2 separate regions of the Homo sapiens genome follow, and region 2 is linked to region 1. A link means that fine-mapping ties the variant in region 1 to the expression of a gene that starts in the linked region. Tissue or cell type: whole blood. Region 1 holds a variant in brackets; the other region holds the start of a gene. All regions are shown on one strand. Distances are between the middles of the regions.

Evidence for each region. PIP is the estimated chance that this variant, and not a neighbour inherited with it, causes the effect.
Region 2: it holds the start of TOR3A, and the variant in region 1 is fine-mapped to the expression of TOR3A in whole blood (TOPMed, PIP 0.99).

Annotation. Positions count from the first base shown.
Region 1 is chr1:179,671,480-179,679,584 of GRCh38, forward strand. The region is part of intron 17 of TDRD5 (tudor domain containing 5); the gene reads left to right. Among named protein-coding and RNA genes, the nearest start is that of FAM163A, 68 kb to the right of the region's middle. The variant C/A (reference allele first, on the strand shown) is at 3,450.
Region 2 is chr1:179,077,245-179,085,349 of GRCh38, forward strand. TOR3A (torsin family 3 member A) reads left to right here and starts at 4,826. Exons shown (of 6, transcript NM_022371.4): 1 at 4,826-5,143; 2 at 5,696-5,809. The coding sequence starts at 4,885. RefSeq lists silencers at 4,801-5,090, 5,231-5,400, 6,391-6,450.

The DNA of each region.
Region 1 (8,105 bases):
CAACAAAGTTTTCATTAGAATGTAAGTTGTTCAGTTATACTGTACTTCTTATGTATAATTTTCATAAAATATTTTGTAAAAACCTAGGACAAATTATATGATTTTTAAAATTTAAAAAATTTACTTCAATAGGTTTTTGGGGAACAGGTGGTGTTTGGTTACTTGAAAGTTCTTTAGTGATGATTTCTGAGATTTCGGTGCACTCATCACCTGAGTGTATACACTGTACCCAATGTGTAGTTTTTTATCCCTCGAAACCCCCCACCCTTTCTCTTGAGTCCCCAAAGTCCAATGTATCATTTTTATGCCTTTGCGTCCTCATAGCTTAGCTCCCACCTATGACTGAGAACATACGATATTTGGTTTTCCATTCCTGAATTACTTCACTTAGAATAATAGTCTCGAATTCCATCCAGGTTGCTGCATATGCCATTATTTCGTTCCTTTTTATGGCTGAGAAATATTCCATGGTGTGTGTGTGTGTGTGTGTGTGTGTGTGTGTGTGTGTGTGTGTATCACATTTTCTTTATCCACTCATTGATTGATGGGCATTTGAGCTGGTTCCATGTTTTTACCATTACAAATTGTGCTGCTATAAATGTGTGTGCAAGTATCTTTTTCGTATAATGACTTCTTTTCCTCTAGGTAGATACCTAGTAGTGGGATTGCTGGATCAAATGGTAGATCTTAGCTCTTTAAGGAATCTCCACACTGTTTTCCATAGTGGTTGTAATAGTTTATATTCTTACCAATAGCATAAAAGCATTCCCTTTCCACCGCATGCATGCCAACATCTATTATTTTTTTATTTTTTTGATTATGGGTATTCTTGCAGAAGTGAGGTGGTATCACATTGTGGTTTTAATTTGCATTTCCCTGATAATTAGTGATGTTGAGCATTTTTCCATATGCTTGTTGACCATTTGTATATCTTCTTTTGGGAATTGTCTATTCAAGTCCTTTGGGATTGTTTCATTTTTTCTTGCTGAGTTCTTTGTAGATTTTTGGATATTAGTCCTTTGTTGGATGTATAGATTGTGAAGATTTTCTCCCATTCTGTGGGTTGTCTTGTTAACTCTGCTGATTATTTCTTTTGCTGTACAGAAGCTTTTTAGTTTAATTAAGTCCCATTTATTTATGTTTGTTTTTGTTGAATTTGCTTCTGGGTTCTTGATCATGAATTATTTGCCTAAGCCAATGTCTAGAAGGGTTTTTCCAATGTTATACTCTAGAATTTTTAAGGTTTCAGGTCTTAGATTTAAGTCTTTGATCCATCTTGAGTTGATTTTTATATAGGGTGAGAGATGAGGATCTAATTTCATTTTTCTACATGTGGCTTGCCAATTATCCTAGCACCATTTGTTGAATAGGGTGTCCTTTCCCCACTTTATGTTTTTGTTTGCTTTGTCAAAAATCAGTTGGCTGTAAGTATTTGGCTTTGTTTTTGGGTTCCCTATTCTGTTCCATTGGTCTATGTGCCTATCTTTATGCCGGTACCATGCTGTTTTGGTAACTATGGCCTTATAGTATAGTTTGAAGTCAGGTAATGTGATGTCTCCAGATTTGTTCTTTTTGCTTAGTCTTGTTTTGGCTATGTGGGCTCTTTTTTGGTTCCATATGAATTTTAAGATTGTTTTTTCTAGTTCTGTGATGAATGATGGTAGTATTTTGATGGGAATTGATCTGAATTTGTGGATTGCTTTTGGCAGTATGATCATTTTCACAATATTGATTCTACCCATCCACGAGCATGAGATGTGTTTCCATTTGTTTGTGTCATCTATGATTTCTTTCAGCAGTGTTTTGTTTTTCTCCATATAGAAGTCTTTCACGTCTTGGTTAGCTATATTCCTAAGTATTCTATTTTTATTGCAGCTATTGTGAAAGGGGTTGAGTTTGTGAACTCAGAAAATCTGAGACAGGTCTCAGTTAATTTAGAAAATTTATTTTGCCAAGGTTGAGGATGTGCCTGTGACAGAGCCTCAAGAAGTCCTGATGACATGTGCCCAAGGTGGTCAGGGCACAGCTTGGTTTTATACATTTAGGGAGACATGAGACATCAATCAATATATGTAAGAAGTGCATTGGTTCGGTCTGGAAGATGGAACAACTTGAAGCAAAGGCAAGAAGCAGGGAGGGAGCTTCCAGGTCACAGATGGGTGATTCACAAATGGTTACATTCTTTTGAGTTTCTGATTAGCCTTTCCAAAGGAGGCAAATCAGATATGCATCTATCTCAGTGGGCAGAGGAGTGACTTTGAGTAGAATGGGAGGCAGGTTTGCCCTAAGCAGTTTCCAGCTTGAGTTTTCCTTAGTGATTTTGGGGGTGCAAGATATTTTCCTTTCACAAGTTCTTGATTTGATTCTCAGCTTGGTCACTGTTGATGTATAGCAGAGCTACTGATTGTGTACATTAATTTTGTATCCTGAAACTTTGCTGAATTCATTTACCAGTTCTAGGAGCTTTTTGGATGAGTCGTTAGGGTTTTCTAGGTATACAATCATATCAGCAAACAGTGACAGTTTGACTTCCTCTTTACCGATTTGGGTGCCCTTTATTTCTTTCTCTTGTCTGATTGCTCTGGCTAGGACTTCCAGTACCATGTTGAATAGAAGTGGTGAAAGTGGGCATCCTTGTCTGTTCCATTTCTCAGGGGGAATGCTTTCAACTTTTCCCCATTCAGTGTAATGTTGGCTGTGAGTTTGTCATAGATGGATTTTATTACCTTAAGGTATGTCCCTATATGCCGATTTTGCTGAGGGTTTAATCATAAAGGGATGCTGGATTTTGTCAAATGCTTTTTCTGCATCTATTGAGGTGATCAAGTGATTTTTGTTTTTAATTCTATTTATGTGGTGTATCACATTTATTGACTTATGTTAAACCATCCCTGCATCCCTGGTATGAAACCCCTCTGACCATGGTGGATTATCTTTTCAGTATGTTACTGGATTCAGTTCACTAGTATTTTGTTGAGGATTTTTGCATCTGTGTTCATCAGGGATATTGGTCTGTAGTTTTTTTTTGTTGTTGTTATGTCCTTTCCCGGTTTTGGTATTAGGGTGATACTGGCTTCACAGAATGATTTAGAGAGGATTTCCTCTTTATCTTTTGGAATACTGTCAATAGGATTGGTACCAATTCTTCTTTAAATGTGTGATAGAATTCAGCTGTGAATCCATCTGGTCCTGGACTTTTTTTGTTGACAGTTTTTTTTATTACCATTTCAATCTCACTGCTTGTTATTGGTCTGATCAGAGATTCTGTATCATCCTGGTTTAATCTAGGACAGTTGTATATTTCCAGAAATTTATCCATCTCTTCTAGGTTTTCTAGTTTACGTTTGTAAAGGTGTTAAAAGTAGCCTTGAATAATCTTTTGTGTTTCTGTGGTATCAGTTGTAACATCTCCCATTTCATTTCTAATTGAGTTTATTTGGATCCTCTCT[C/A]TTCTTTTCTTAGTTAATCTCACTAATGGTCTTTCAATTTTTATCTTTTCAAAGAACCAACTTTTTGTTTCACTTATCTTTTGTACCTTTTATTGTTTCAATTTCATTTAGTTCTCCTCTGATCCTGGTTATTTCCTTTCTTCTGCTGAGTTTGGGTTTGGATTGTCATTGTTTCTCCAATTCTGTGAGGTATAACCTTAGATTGTTTATTTGTGCTCTTATAGACTTTTTGATATAGGCATTTAATGCTATGAACTTTCCTCTAAGCACCACTTCTGCTGTATTCCAGAGGTTTTGATAGATTGTATCATTCAGTTCAAAGAATTTTTATTATTATTATTATTATTTTTTTTTTTTTTTTTTTTTTTTGAGACGGAGTCTCACTCTTTCGCCCAAGCTGGACTGCAGTGGCGCTATCCCGGCTCACTGCAAGCTCCGCCTCTTGGGTTCATGCCATTCTCCTGCCTCAGCCTCCCGAGTAGCTGGGATTACAGGCGCCCACCACCACGCCCGGCTAATTTTTTGTATTTTTAGTAGAGACGGGGTTTCACCGTGTTAGCCAGGATGGTCTCGATCTCCTGACCTCGTGATCCGCCCGCCTCGGCCTCCCAAAGTGCTGGGATTACAGGCGTGAGCCACCGCGCCCGGCCCTCAAAGAATTTTTAAATCCCCATCTAGATTTCATTGTTGACCCAATGATCATTCAGGAGCAGGTTATTTAATTTCCATCTATTTGCATGGTTTTGAGTGTTCCTCTTGGAGTTGATACCCAATTTTATTCTACTATGGTCTGAGAGAGTACTTGATATAACTTCAATTTCCTTAAATTTACTGAGGCTTGTTTTGTGGCCTATCATGTGGTCTAAGAGAATGTTCCATGTGTTGATGAATAGAATATATATTCTGCATTTTGTGGGGTAGAATGTTCTATAAATATCTGTTAAATCCATTTGTTGTAGGGTATAGTTTAAGTCCACTGTTTCTTTGTTGACTTTCTGTCTAGTGCTGTCAGTCGAGTATTAAAGTCCCCCACTGCTATTGTGTTGCCGTCGATATCTCATTTCTTAGGTCTAGTAGTAATTGTTTTATAAATTTGGGAGCTCCAGTGTTAGGTGCATGTATATTTAGAATTGCTATGTTTTCCTGTTGGACTAGTCCTTTTATCATTATATAATGTCCCTCTTTGTCTTTTTTAACTGCAGCTGCTTTAAAGTTTATTTTGTCTGATATAAGAATAGCTACTCCTGCTAGCTTTTGGTGTTCATTTGCATGGAATATCTTTTTCCATCTCTTTACCTTAAGTTTCTGTGAGTCCTTATGTGTTAGGCAAGTCTCCTGAAGGCAGCAGAAACTTGGTTGGTGAATTCTTATCCATTCTGCAGTTCTGTATCTTTTAAGTGGAGCATTGAGGCCATTTACATTCAATGTTAGTATTGAGATGTGAGGTACTATTCTATTCATCATGCTATTTGTTGCCTGAATACCTTGTTTTTTTCATTGTGTTATTGTTACGTAGGTCCTGTGAGATTTATGCTTTAAAGGAAGTTCTATTTTGGTGTATTTTGAGGATGTGTTTCAAGATTTAGTGCTCCTTTAGCAGTTCCTGTGCTGTCTTGGTAGTGGCGAAGTCTCTCAGCATTTGTTTGTTTGGAAAAGACTATCTTTCCTTCATTTATGAAGCTTAGTTTTGCTGGCTACAAAATTCTTGGCTAATAATTGTTTTGTTTAAGGAGGCTAGAAATAGGACCCCAGTCCCTTCTAGCTTATAGATTTCTGCTGAGAAATCTGCTGTTAATCTGATAGATTTTCCTTTGTAGGTTACCTGATGCTTTTGCCTCACAGCTCTTAAGAGTCTTTCCTTGGTCTTGACTTTAAATAACTTGATGACTGTATGCCTAGGCAGTTATCTTTTTGCAATGAATTTCCCAGGTGTTCTTTGAGCTGCTTGTATTTGGATATCTAGATCTCTAGCAAGACCAGGGAAGTTTTCCTTGATTATTCCCTCAAATATGTTTTCCATACTTTTAGATTTCTCTTCTTCTTCAGGAACACCAGCTATTCTTAGGTTTGGATGTTTAACCTAGTCCCAAACTTCTTGGAGGCGTTGTTCATTTTTTTAAATTATTTTTTCTTTGTGTTTGATGGATCAGGTTAATTCAAAAGCCTTGTCTTTGAGCTCTGAAGTTCTTTCTTCTGCTTGTTCGATTCTATTGCTGAGCCTTTCCAGTGCATTTTGCATTTCTCTAAGTGTGTCCTTGATTTCCAGAAGTTGTGATTGTTTTTTATTAATGCTTTCTATTTCACTGAAGAATTTTTCTTTCATATCCTGTATCATGTTTTTGATTTCTTTAAGCTGGACTTCACCTTTCTCTGGTGCCTCCTTGATTAGCTTGATAATCAACCTTCTGAAATCTTTTTCTGGCAATTCAGAGATTTCATCTTGGTTTGAATCCATTGCTGGTGAGCTGGTGTGATCTTTTAGGGGTGTTAAAGAACCTTATTTTGTCATATTACCAGAATGATTTTTCTGGTTCCTTCTTATTTGAGTAGAGTATATAAGAGGGGAGATCTGGGATTCAAGGGCTGCTGTTCAGATTCTTTTGTCCCACGGGATGCTCCCTTGATGTGGTGTTCTCTTCTTTCCCCTAGGATTGGGGCTTCCTGAGAACTGAACTGTGGTGATTGTTTTTGCTCTTCTGGGTTTAGCCAGTAAGTGGAGCTACTGGGCTCTGGGCTGGTACTGGGGAGAGTCTGCAAAGAGTCTTGTGATGTGATCCATCTTCAGGTCTTGCAGCCATAGATACCAGCACCTGCTCTGGTGGAGGTAGCAGGGAAGTGAAGTGGACTCTTTGAGGGTCCTTGGTTGTGTTTTTGTTTAGTACACTGGCTTTGTGTTGGTTGACCTCCAGCCAGGAGGTGGTGCTTTCAAAAGTACATCAGCTGTGGCCCTATAGGGAGGATGCAAACTTGCCCTAGGCATACCTGGTTAAGTACTCAGGTTTCTCAGGCAGTGAGCAGGGCCATAGAGCTCCCAAGAGATTATGACCTTTGTCTTTGGCTACCAAGACAGGTAGAGAAAGATCACCAACCAGGTGGGGGCAGGGACAGGTGTGTCTGAGCTTAGCCCCTCCTTGGGAAGGGCTTGCTGCGGCTGCTATGGGGGTGGGGGTGTGGTTCCCAGTCCAGTGGAATTACACCCCCAGGGGGATTATGGCTGCCTCTGCTGAGTCATACAGGTTGCCAGGGAAGTGGGGGAAAGCCGGCAGTCACGGGCCTCACTCCGCTCCCAGGGTAGCTTGCAGTTCTAAAGGCTAGTCTCACTCCCACCGTGGCTCCCTCAACAGCACCGAGTCTATTTCTAGGCAGCTGGTGACCAGGGCTGAGAATTTGCCCCAGACCATGAGCCTCCCCGTTGAGAAAGCAAGCAGACTCACAGTTTTTCAGCATCTCAGGGAAACTTCAGGGGTGATCCAGTTTCTTCAAAGGGTCTGTGGATCCTCTCAGCTTTCCCTATTTGCTCCAAGAACTACCACAGGAACATAAGTTCATGATGTGAGTCTCCACATGCCACTTTGTCCGTCCAGGCAGGAGCTATAGAGTAGTCCTGCCTCCTATCCGCCATCTTAATCGACTATATTTAAACATTTATTCTTCTTTAATTTCTAGCAATGATATTTTGTAGTTTTCAGGTGCATAGGTGTTTTTCATCTTTTGTTAAATTTATCCCTAAGTAATATTTTTATACTGTTGAATAAATGGCATTTTAAATTCAATTTTTTTTATTACTGGTATATAGAAATATAGTTGGTTTTCATATATTCCGTGACCTTGCTAAACTCATTTGTTCTAATAGCTCTTTTGGGATTTTCTGTATAGACATTTCATATGTGGGGGAAAAAAATCAGTTTACTACTTGTGAAATTGTTTGCCATTTTTCCTTTTCCTTGTACTGGTTAGGACTTCCATTATAGAGTTGAATAGGAGAGGCCAGAGTGACATCCTTGCATTGTTGTTGATCTTATAGGAAGCATTTTATCTTATTACAAATAAAGTGTAATGTTAGCTGTAGCCTTTTTGTAGATGCTGTTGGTAGGCTAAGAAAGTTCCAATTTATTCCTAGATTTCTGATAGTTTTTATTATGAATCGGTGTTGAATCTTATCAAATGCTTATTCTGCGTCTATTGAGATGGTTATGCTGTTGCTTGTTTTAATTGACTGTTTATGGGATGGTGAATTATATCGATTTTCAAATATTAAACCAACCTTACATTCCTGGGATAATGCCCTCGTGGTCATGATATACTATCCATTTTATAGAATGTTAGACTCTATTTGTTAAAATATTGTTAAGGATTTTTATGGCCATGTTCATGAGGGATATTTGTCTATAGTTTTCTTTTTTTATAATGTCTTTGTCTGGTTTTGGTATCCAGATAATGATGCTGTCATAAAATAAGTTGGGAAGTGTTTCCTCCTCTTCTATTAATATTGTCTGGAAGAATTTGTGTGGAATTGATATTATTTCTTCCTTAAATGTTTGGTAGAATTCAATAATGAGGACCTCTGGACCTAGAGTTTTCTTTGAAGGAAGGTATTTTAAGCTAATGTCTTTAATAGATACAAGGTTATTGATGATCAATTTCTTCTCAAGTAAA
Region 2 (8,105 bases), 590 kb before region 1:
GGGATTGTGCCATTGCACTCCAGCCTGGGCAACAAGAGTGAAACTCAGTCTCAAAAAAAGAAAAAAAAAAAATAGCTGGGTGTGGTGGCAGGCGCCTGTAATCCCGGCTACTCGGAGGCTGAGGCAGGAAAATTGCTTGAACCCAGCAGGCGGAGGTTGCAATGAGCCGAGATCGTGCCATTGCACTCCAGCCTGGGCAACGAGCGAAACTCTGTCTCAAAAAACAAAACAAAACTATTTTATTTGCAGCATATTTGTGCTAGTTTTTGTCATTTGTACATGAATACATGTGGGAGGCTAGTAGAGCCTGGTCTGTGTATCTCACTGACTCACCACATACAAATTCTTTTCCAGGCTAGAGTTCAGGATTCATTTGCTTCTCAAGCATATCAGAACGACTGGTATTAGAGTTTGAAAAAGGTAGCTGGGAGTAGGGAGGGCGGGGCTCTGTTACTGGGTAATTTTACCTAGTATGTTTGCTTATTAGACTGATTTTTAGCAGTCGTCATTTTGTAAAATAGATAGGAATGGTCATAGCCACTGGATTTCCATGGGTAGGGTTTTGTAAGGTAAGTTGCAGTATAAGCCCCAAGGAATAATGGTATTAAATCACAATTTGTGAGATATTTGGTCTGTCATCAGTAGATCTGTGGGCCATTGTGCTGCAAGCTGTGGTATACCATTGAGATGATAGTGACTGTCTTTTCCCTCAAAGAGCCTGCAGTCTAGACCTGGCAGAAAAAAAAAAAAAAAAACTGCTTGTGAGGCACCAAGTCCCTCAGGAATTATATAAATTAATTGCAGTGAGAATAAGAAACGGGAGAGGATCATGGAGGTGGGGATTGGGAGGGATTGGGTTAGGCAGTACCTACATTGAAAAAGTGGAGATTGATCCAGGCTTGACGAGAGGTGTGTATAGAACCCCTGACTCCGGAAATGCAGAACTATTTGCTTAGTGGATACAGGGCCTTCTGGGCCTGTATTTTCAGTATCTGGGTCACCAGAAATATCGCTTCAGGGGTTTCTCATTGTTCTAGGAAATGTTTGTGTGCCCTGTCTCTTGAGGACATTCTCAGTCCACCTCAAGTGCTGTGTAGATGTTAAAGGAACATAGATGAGCTGGGAAACATTCCTGTAATGTTTCTCATGCAGGGTTATTTAAATATGGAGACTTGCGTTTGTTTTGTTTTTGAGACCAAATCTCACTGCAGTGCCCAGGCTGGAGTGCAATGGCGCGATCTTAGCTCACTGCAACCTCCGCTTCCCAGGTTCAAGCAATTCGCCTGCCTCAGCCTCCCGAGTAGCCAGGACTACAGGCGCATGCCACCACGCCCGGCTAATTTTTGTATTTTTAGTAGAGACGGGGTTTCTCCATATTGGCCGGGCTGATTGGTCTCAAACACTTGACCTCAAGTGATCCACCTGCCTTGGCCTCCCAAAGTGCTGGGATTACAGGCGTGAGCCACCGTCCCAGGCCGAGACTTGCTTTTGACCCAGTGTTTCCAAGGCAGATGGTTCTGATTGCCTTCAGTGGGGTTGGGAAGATGTCTGTTGTAAAGCTAGGTCATACTCAGATGACATCAATAAAGGTGTTGTGTGCCAATTTTGCCTTAGGCTTTTTTTTTTTTTTTTGGATTGACAGTCTTGCTTTGACGCAGGCTGGAGTACAATGGCACAATCATCGCTCATTGGCAGCCTCGAACTCCTGAGCTCAAGTGATCCTCCTCCCTCAGCCTCTCAAGTAGCTAGGATTATAGGCGCGCACCACCACACGCAGCTTATTTTTTATTTTTATTTTTGGTAGAGACAAGGGGTCTAGCCTTATTGCCCAGGCTGGTCTGAAACTCTGGCTTCAAGCCACCCTCCTGCCTCAGCCTCCCAAAGTGCTGGGATTACAGGCATGAGCCATGGCTCCCTGCACAGAAAGACCTTCTTAAAGTGCAGGTTTTGATTCAGTATGTCTGGGGCCTGAGATTCTGCATTTCTAACAAGCTCCTGGGTGATGCCAGTGGTGGGGTTCTGGAACCGCCCTTGAGTAGCACCGTAATGCTTGCTAAAGAATCATAGTTGTCTGTAGTTTTCCCAGCAGCCTCTAGATGTCCCCGTCATCCATGAGATACTGCTTCCAGAACTTTAAAACGAGCACAGCCTCCAAGGCCTGAGACGGAAAGGAGTATTTATTGAAATACTCAAGAGACGTATCTAGAAACTGGTGTTTGGATTTATTGTTTCTACACGGGACTGACTCTTTGGTGAAAAAGTGTTTACCTCTTTTTTTTTTTTTTTTGGAAAAAAACGGCCAGGCGCAGTGGCTCACGCCTGTAATCCCAACACTTTGGGAGGCTAAGGCAGGCAGGCAGATCACCTGAGGCCAGGAGTTCGAGACCAGCCTGGCCAACATGGCGAAACCCCGTCTCTACTAAAAATACAAAAAAAAAAAAAAAGCGGGGGCGTGGTGGTGAACGCCTGTAATCCCAGCTACTTGGGAGGCTGAGGGGGAAGAATCGCTTGAACCGGGGAGGCGGAGGTTGCAGTGAGCCGAGATTGCACCACTGCACTCCAGCCTGGGCGACAGAGCAAGACTCCGTCTCTAAATAAATAAATAAATAAATAAATAAATAATAAAAATGTCTTGAAATCAAGTTGGTTGTCGAAGAACTTCCCAGCTAACCTACTTTATTTACAATGGGATGCTAAATCCAAGTCAGAACATCTCAGAAATGAGCAGGTAGCCCTACATAAAAGTTCCAAGTACAGATAATTCTTTCCACAACATCTTAAAACTTGGATTGTTTTAATAAACTATTGTTACTATTAATTTTTTCACCATAAATTCACTTATAAACCACCAGTATTAACTAAAGCCATCCTTGCCTCCTGTGTAGACCACCCAGAGCCTCCTCCATGGCTGGGTAGATACAAAAATAAAACTGGCCACGTATTGAGTGTTGATGATGTGCTCATTGAATGAGCTCATTTAATCTTCACAGCAGCCCTATGAGGGGACTATTTTATTATCCCTTTTTATAGGTGAGGAAACAGGCATGGGACGGTTCAGTAACATCCATGGTTGCACAAATAGAAAATGGTAATCACTATATTAGACTGCCATTCAGACTCAAACGACATTTGTTGAGTGAGTTAATTTTTTTTCTTTTCTCTTTTTTCTTTTTTTTTTTTTTTTGAGATGGAGCCCTGCTCTGTCACCCAGGCTGGAGTGCAGTGGTACCATCTTGGCTCACTGCAACCTCTGCCCCCTGGGTTCAAGCCATTCTCCTGCCTCAGCCTCCTGAGTAGCTGGGATTACAGATGCGCACCATCACACTCAGCTAATTTTTGGATTTTTAGTAGAGACTGGGTTTCACCATGTTGGCCAGGCTGGTCTCGAACTCCTGATCTCAGGTGATCCGCCCGCCTCGGCCTTCTAAAGTGCTAGGATTACAGGCGTGAGCCACCACACCCTGCCTAATTTTTTTTGGTTTTCCAATAAGCACTGTGGTGTATGTGCTGTTAACTGTCTCCGGTGGACTCCGCAAGCTCGATGTACACAGTGCTGGGCTGGTGCCATGGCTGCTACTCTATGAAAAGTTTTTGACATCACACTGAATGGCTGAGACACTATAAACATTTTACTTTTCAACTCAACCTCGTGTCCTAGCAAAGGTGCTTTATCTAGTTTCTGTAGCTGTTCGAATGAAAGGCACAAATTTGGTGAGCTGCTGAGAATGGAGCAGACCTGGCACGGTGTGATCTAAGAGACTGGGGTGAACAGATGAATCAAGTTGCCTGTGACATTTGTGAGACACGGTGCTAGTATTCACCTTACTGTCTGGAGGGCCCAACCTCAAAGCCACTAAACATATGACATTAGCCAAGTCCTCTGATCTCTCTAGACAGCAGTTTTCTCCTAAGACAAGACGGCTTTTTGGCTTGGCTGAAGTAAGCCAGGTGATTTTAAACAATGCATTAAGCTCTTCTGAAATCTAACAGCCTTGTTCCATGCTCCTCGCTATGGAGAAGAGAGCGCTGAGGGAAAGAGGCCCTGTAGTCTTTTGCCAATGGTGTCGGATGGGCTGCTCAGTCCCAGCACTTGAAAGTTGCAAACCTAGTCAAGAAAGTGCACACAGTACTTCGGATTTTTATGAGATATAATTACATTGACATGACGCCTCATGATTTACCCATGACTCGGGGGGTTTCCAAACTCCAAACACCTCCAGACTGGAGCCCGTCAATCAGCTTCCTCTTGCTTTTCGTGGACTCCCACTGTGGAAACCTGCTGGTGTTTTGCTGCGGTTTCATTTCCCTCTGCGGAGGAGCCAGGGCAACCTTGGCCAGACAGGCACCTAGCTGTGCCCTTCTTTCCAGGGCCTCTTCTCCACTCAGCTGACTCCCCTGGCCTGCCTAACGCTCCTGACTGAGACGGTTTTCCGGCTTCCTCTAACAGGTTGGCGGGAAGTTGATCTGCAAACGCGAGGCAAAGCAGGAGTGTCCTTATTCGGTAGGCCTCTGATGGGCCACCAGAGCCGTCCGAAAGTCCTAGCGGAGTGATTGACAGTGGCCATTTCAAAGCCTGAGTTCACCTTCTTTGCAACCACAATCACGACCCAGAATAAACTGCTTCCTGGAAGCCGGCTAGTTGCACCTGGCCTGAAGTCAGTCTCGGGACTGCCTCTCAGGACCCCAGACAGGGTTTCGGGTTCCCGCCTGGGTCACGTGTACGGAGGCTGCCAGTGCGCACTCAGCCCGGCCCGCCGGTCGCCACAGCAACACCAATCCCGGGTTCAAGCCCGCCTAGGAAGTGCGGTCCCCGCCTGACCGCCCCGGGCTTAAGGGAGCCTGGCTAGGCCGGCAGCCGGATGGTCCCGCAGCTCGGGGCCGGCCATGCTTCGCGGTCCGTGGCGCCAGCTTTGGCTCTTTTTCCTGCTGCTGCTCCCGGGCGCGCCTGAGCCCCGCGGCGCCTCCAGGCCGTGGGAGGGAACCGACGAGCCGGGCTCGGCCTGGGCCTGGCCGGGCTTCCAGCGCCTGCAGGAGCAGCTCAGGGCGGCGGGTGCCCTCTCCAAGCGGTACTGGACGCTCTTCAGCTGCCAGGTGTGGCCCGACGACTGTGACGAGGACGAGGAGGCAGCCACGGGGCCCCTGGGTAAGACCCCGTCCCCACGGTCCGCCGTTCGCTGCGGAGCAGAGTGCGATCCGGGCGCGGCTGTGGTCGCCTCGCTCCTGTCCGGGGCGACATCTGGGCCCGCAGTCCTGCTCTGCTCAGCCGCCGGTACCGGCTGTGGGCGGGGGCAGCCTCCGCGGAGCAGGGAGCCCCATCACCGCCCTTGCCCCACCCGCGTCCCCTGCGCACCCCCCTGGCGCCCGGCTTCCCGTCCCCCGCCTCCCCTGATCCCTGCGCTTTCCAGATTCTCTCGCACCGCCTGTGCCATCTCCCAGCCCACCCTGGCGTTATTCGAAGGTGTTGCTCTTGACAGCTCTAGGGAACGTCCGCTGTGGACATGCCTGGTGACTGCCGTCTCCCTTGCTGCTTTTGGACGCAGGGCTTGAGGACCGACAGTGGGCCGAGTCGGGGCTGGGAGTTAGAATCTGAGTTCTGGGTGTCCCTCTGTCCCTGACAAGTTGTGTGGCAAGGTTGCCGCATCACTGTAGAGCACCGGATGGTCTCCTCTCGGTCTCACAGCTCCTCCTTTTCCAGGCTGGCGCCTTCCTCTGTTGGGCCAGCGGTACCTGGACCTCCTGACCACGTGGTACTGCAGCTTCAAAGACTGCTGCCCTAGAGGGGATTGCAGAATCTCCAACAACTTTACAGGTTGGACCCCGCATGGCTTCAAGGGGCTAGGGATCTGTGGGGAGGGGAGGCAGTCCAGGGGAAATGGTTAGATGCAAGGGACCTTTCGTCATCCTGCCCAGCCTCCCGACAAGCAGGAACTGCCACAGTCTGACTGAAGTTTTGAGGGAGTACCAAATGCTTGAGTCAGGGAAGCCCCTTTTTAGCCTCTAGCTTAATAGCCCAGGCAAACTGAGCTGTTTGTCAGGCCCAGAGCACCTTGTTTCACTCTAAACAGAAACAGCTACCTCTCAGAGGGGGCTGGAACTATCCAGAGAGAACTGATCAGAAATTCTGGGTTGTGATTAAAAGTGTCCCTTTCTTTTCTTTTTTTTTTTTGAGACGGAGGCTTGCTCTGTCACCCACACTGGAGTGCAGTGGTGCGATCTCAGCTCACTGCACCCTCCGCCTCCTGGGTTCAAGCAATTTTCCTGCCTCAGCCTCCCGAGTAGCTGGGATTACAGGTGCCTGCCACCACGTCCGGCTAATTTCTGTATTTTTAGTAGAGGCGGGGGGGGGGGGGGGGGGCGGGTTTCACCATGTTGGCCAGGCCGGTCTCGAACTCCTGACCTTGTGATTTGCCTGCCTTGGCCTCCAAGAGTGCTGTGATTACAGGCGTGAGCCACTGTGCCATGGCAACCAGTATTTTCTAATTAGTTTGGGTTGCTTGATTTGCATATCGCAGTTGATTTGCATTTTCACTCTCACAAGGTGATCTTTGGCCCCATGTTCTGAAACCTGTTCAGACATTTGCAAAAGCTTCCTCTCTTTTCCCCAGGAGCAATTTCTTGCCCAGAGTTCTCCTGATCCCAGGTCCTTCAATCTCCATAAATGAGGCCCACCCCAGATATTTAGGTCACTTAATTGGCCAAAATGCCAATAACACAGTGTGTTTAGGGACACAGTCTGGCTCAGGACAGAAGATAGGACTACATACAGGTCAGGAAGTCTTAATTTGGATCACTGCTGACTTGGATAAGACCCTAGGTAGCAATTAGCAAGTTACTTTCTGTCCTCAACATGCCTTTTGTTCGACAAGGGCCTGGATATCCAAATTGTTCTGGCCAGCGGATTGGAGACCCCTCCTAGTCGTGCCTCTTCCTTGCTGGCAAACTGAAGAGTCCTTCCCAAGTGTCCGTTTCCTCAGCTGTATTTTATTTTATTTTTTTTACTTATTTATTTTGAGACCAAGTCAGTCTCTGTCACCTAGGCTGGAGCAATCTCGTCTCACTGCAAACTCTGCCTCCCAGGTTCAAGCGATTCTCTTCCCTCAGCCTCCCGAGTGGCTGGGATTATAGGTGCCCACCACCATGCCCAGCTAATTTTTGTATTTTTAGTAGAGAGGGGGTTCACCATGTTGGCTAGGCTGGTCTCGAACTCCTGACCTCGTGATCCGCCCGCCTCAGCCTCCCCAAGTGCTGGGATTACAGGCGGGAACCACCTCGCCCAGCCAGTTTCCTCAGCTTTAAATGGGAATAATAATGCCTGCCTTGCAGAATTGTGAAGACCAAATGTAAAACACTTAGCCCAGTTCTGAATACAGAGAAAAAAGCAGCAAATGTTAATTTTCTTCTATGTCACTACTACTTTTGGAGCAATGTGTGATGCCCTCAATGTTTTATCATAGACCTTGACCTCCCAAGGCTCCAGAATACCTGCTCTGGGCTGGCTTAAGGTGTTCAACCAATTGATCCTGGATTTGGAATGCTCACCCACAGCTGGCCGCACACCCTGCCTGTCTGCACTGTGGCTCCTGGTAGCGCCATCTCCAAATCCTACAACCTCACGTCTGACAGGAGGAAGTTAGACCTAGCAGAAGGCTTTGCACACTGGAGCTGCTCTCACCAAGTGTTGGCTGAATTGAATGAGAATGAATAAAATCAGGCTTCTCCATAAAACAGGGAGCCCTGAAACCAAGGGATGGGAGCAGCCTCAGGACATGGGGGACAGGGTTCCTCCCTAGACAGGTCTGTGCCAACTGTTCTGGGTATCTGCAGGATCTTTAGGAAGGGTGATTCCACTCTCCCTGAGTCCCATCTTGATTTCCCAAACTCTTCAAAAAGTAGTCCTTGAGGCTGGGCGCAATGGCTCACGCCTGTAATCCCAGCACTTTGGGAGGCCGAGGTGGGCGGATCTCGAGGTCAGGAGTTCAAGACCAGCCTAGCCAACCTGGTGAAACCCGTCTCTACTAAAAATACAAAAATTAGCTGGGTATGGTGGTGGGCACCTGTAATCCCAGCCACTCGGGAGGCTGAGGCAGGAGAATCGCTTGAACCAG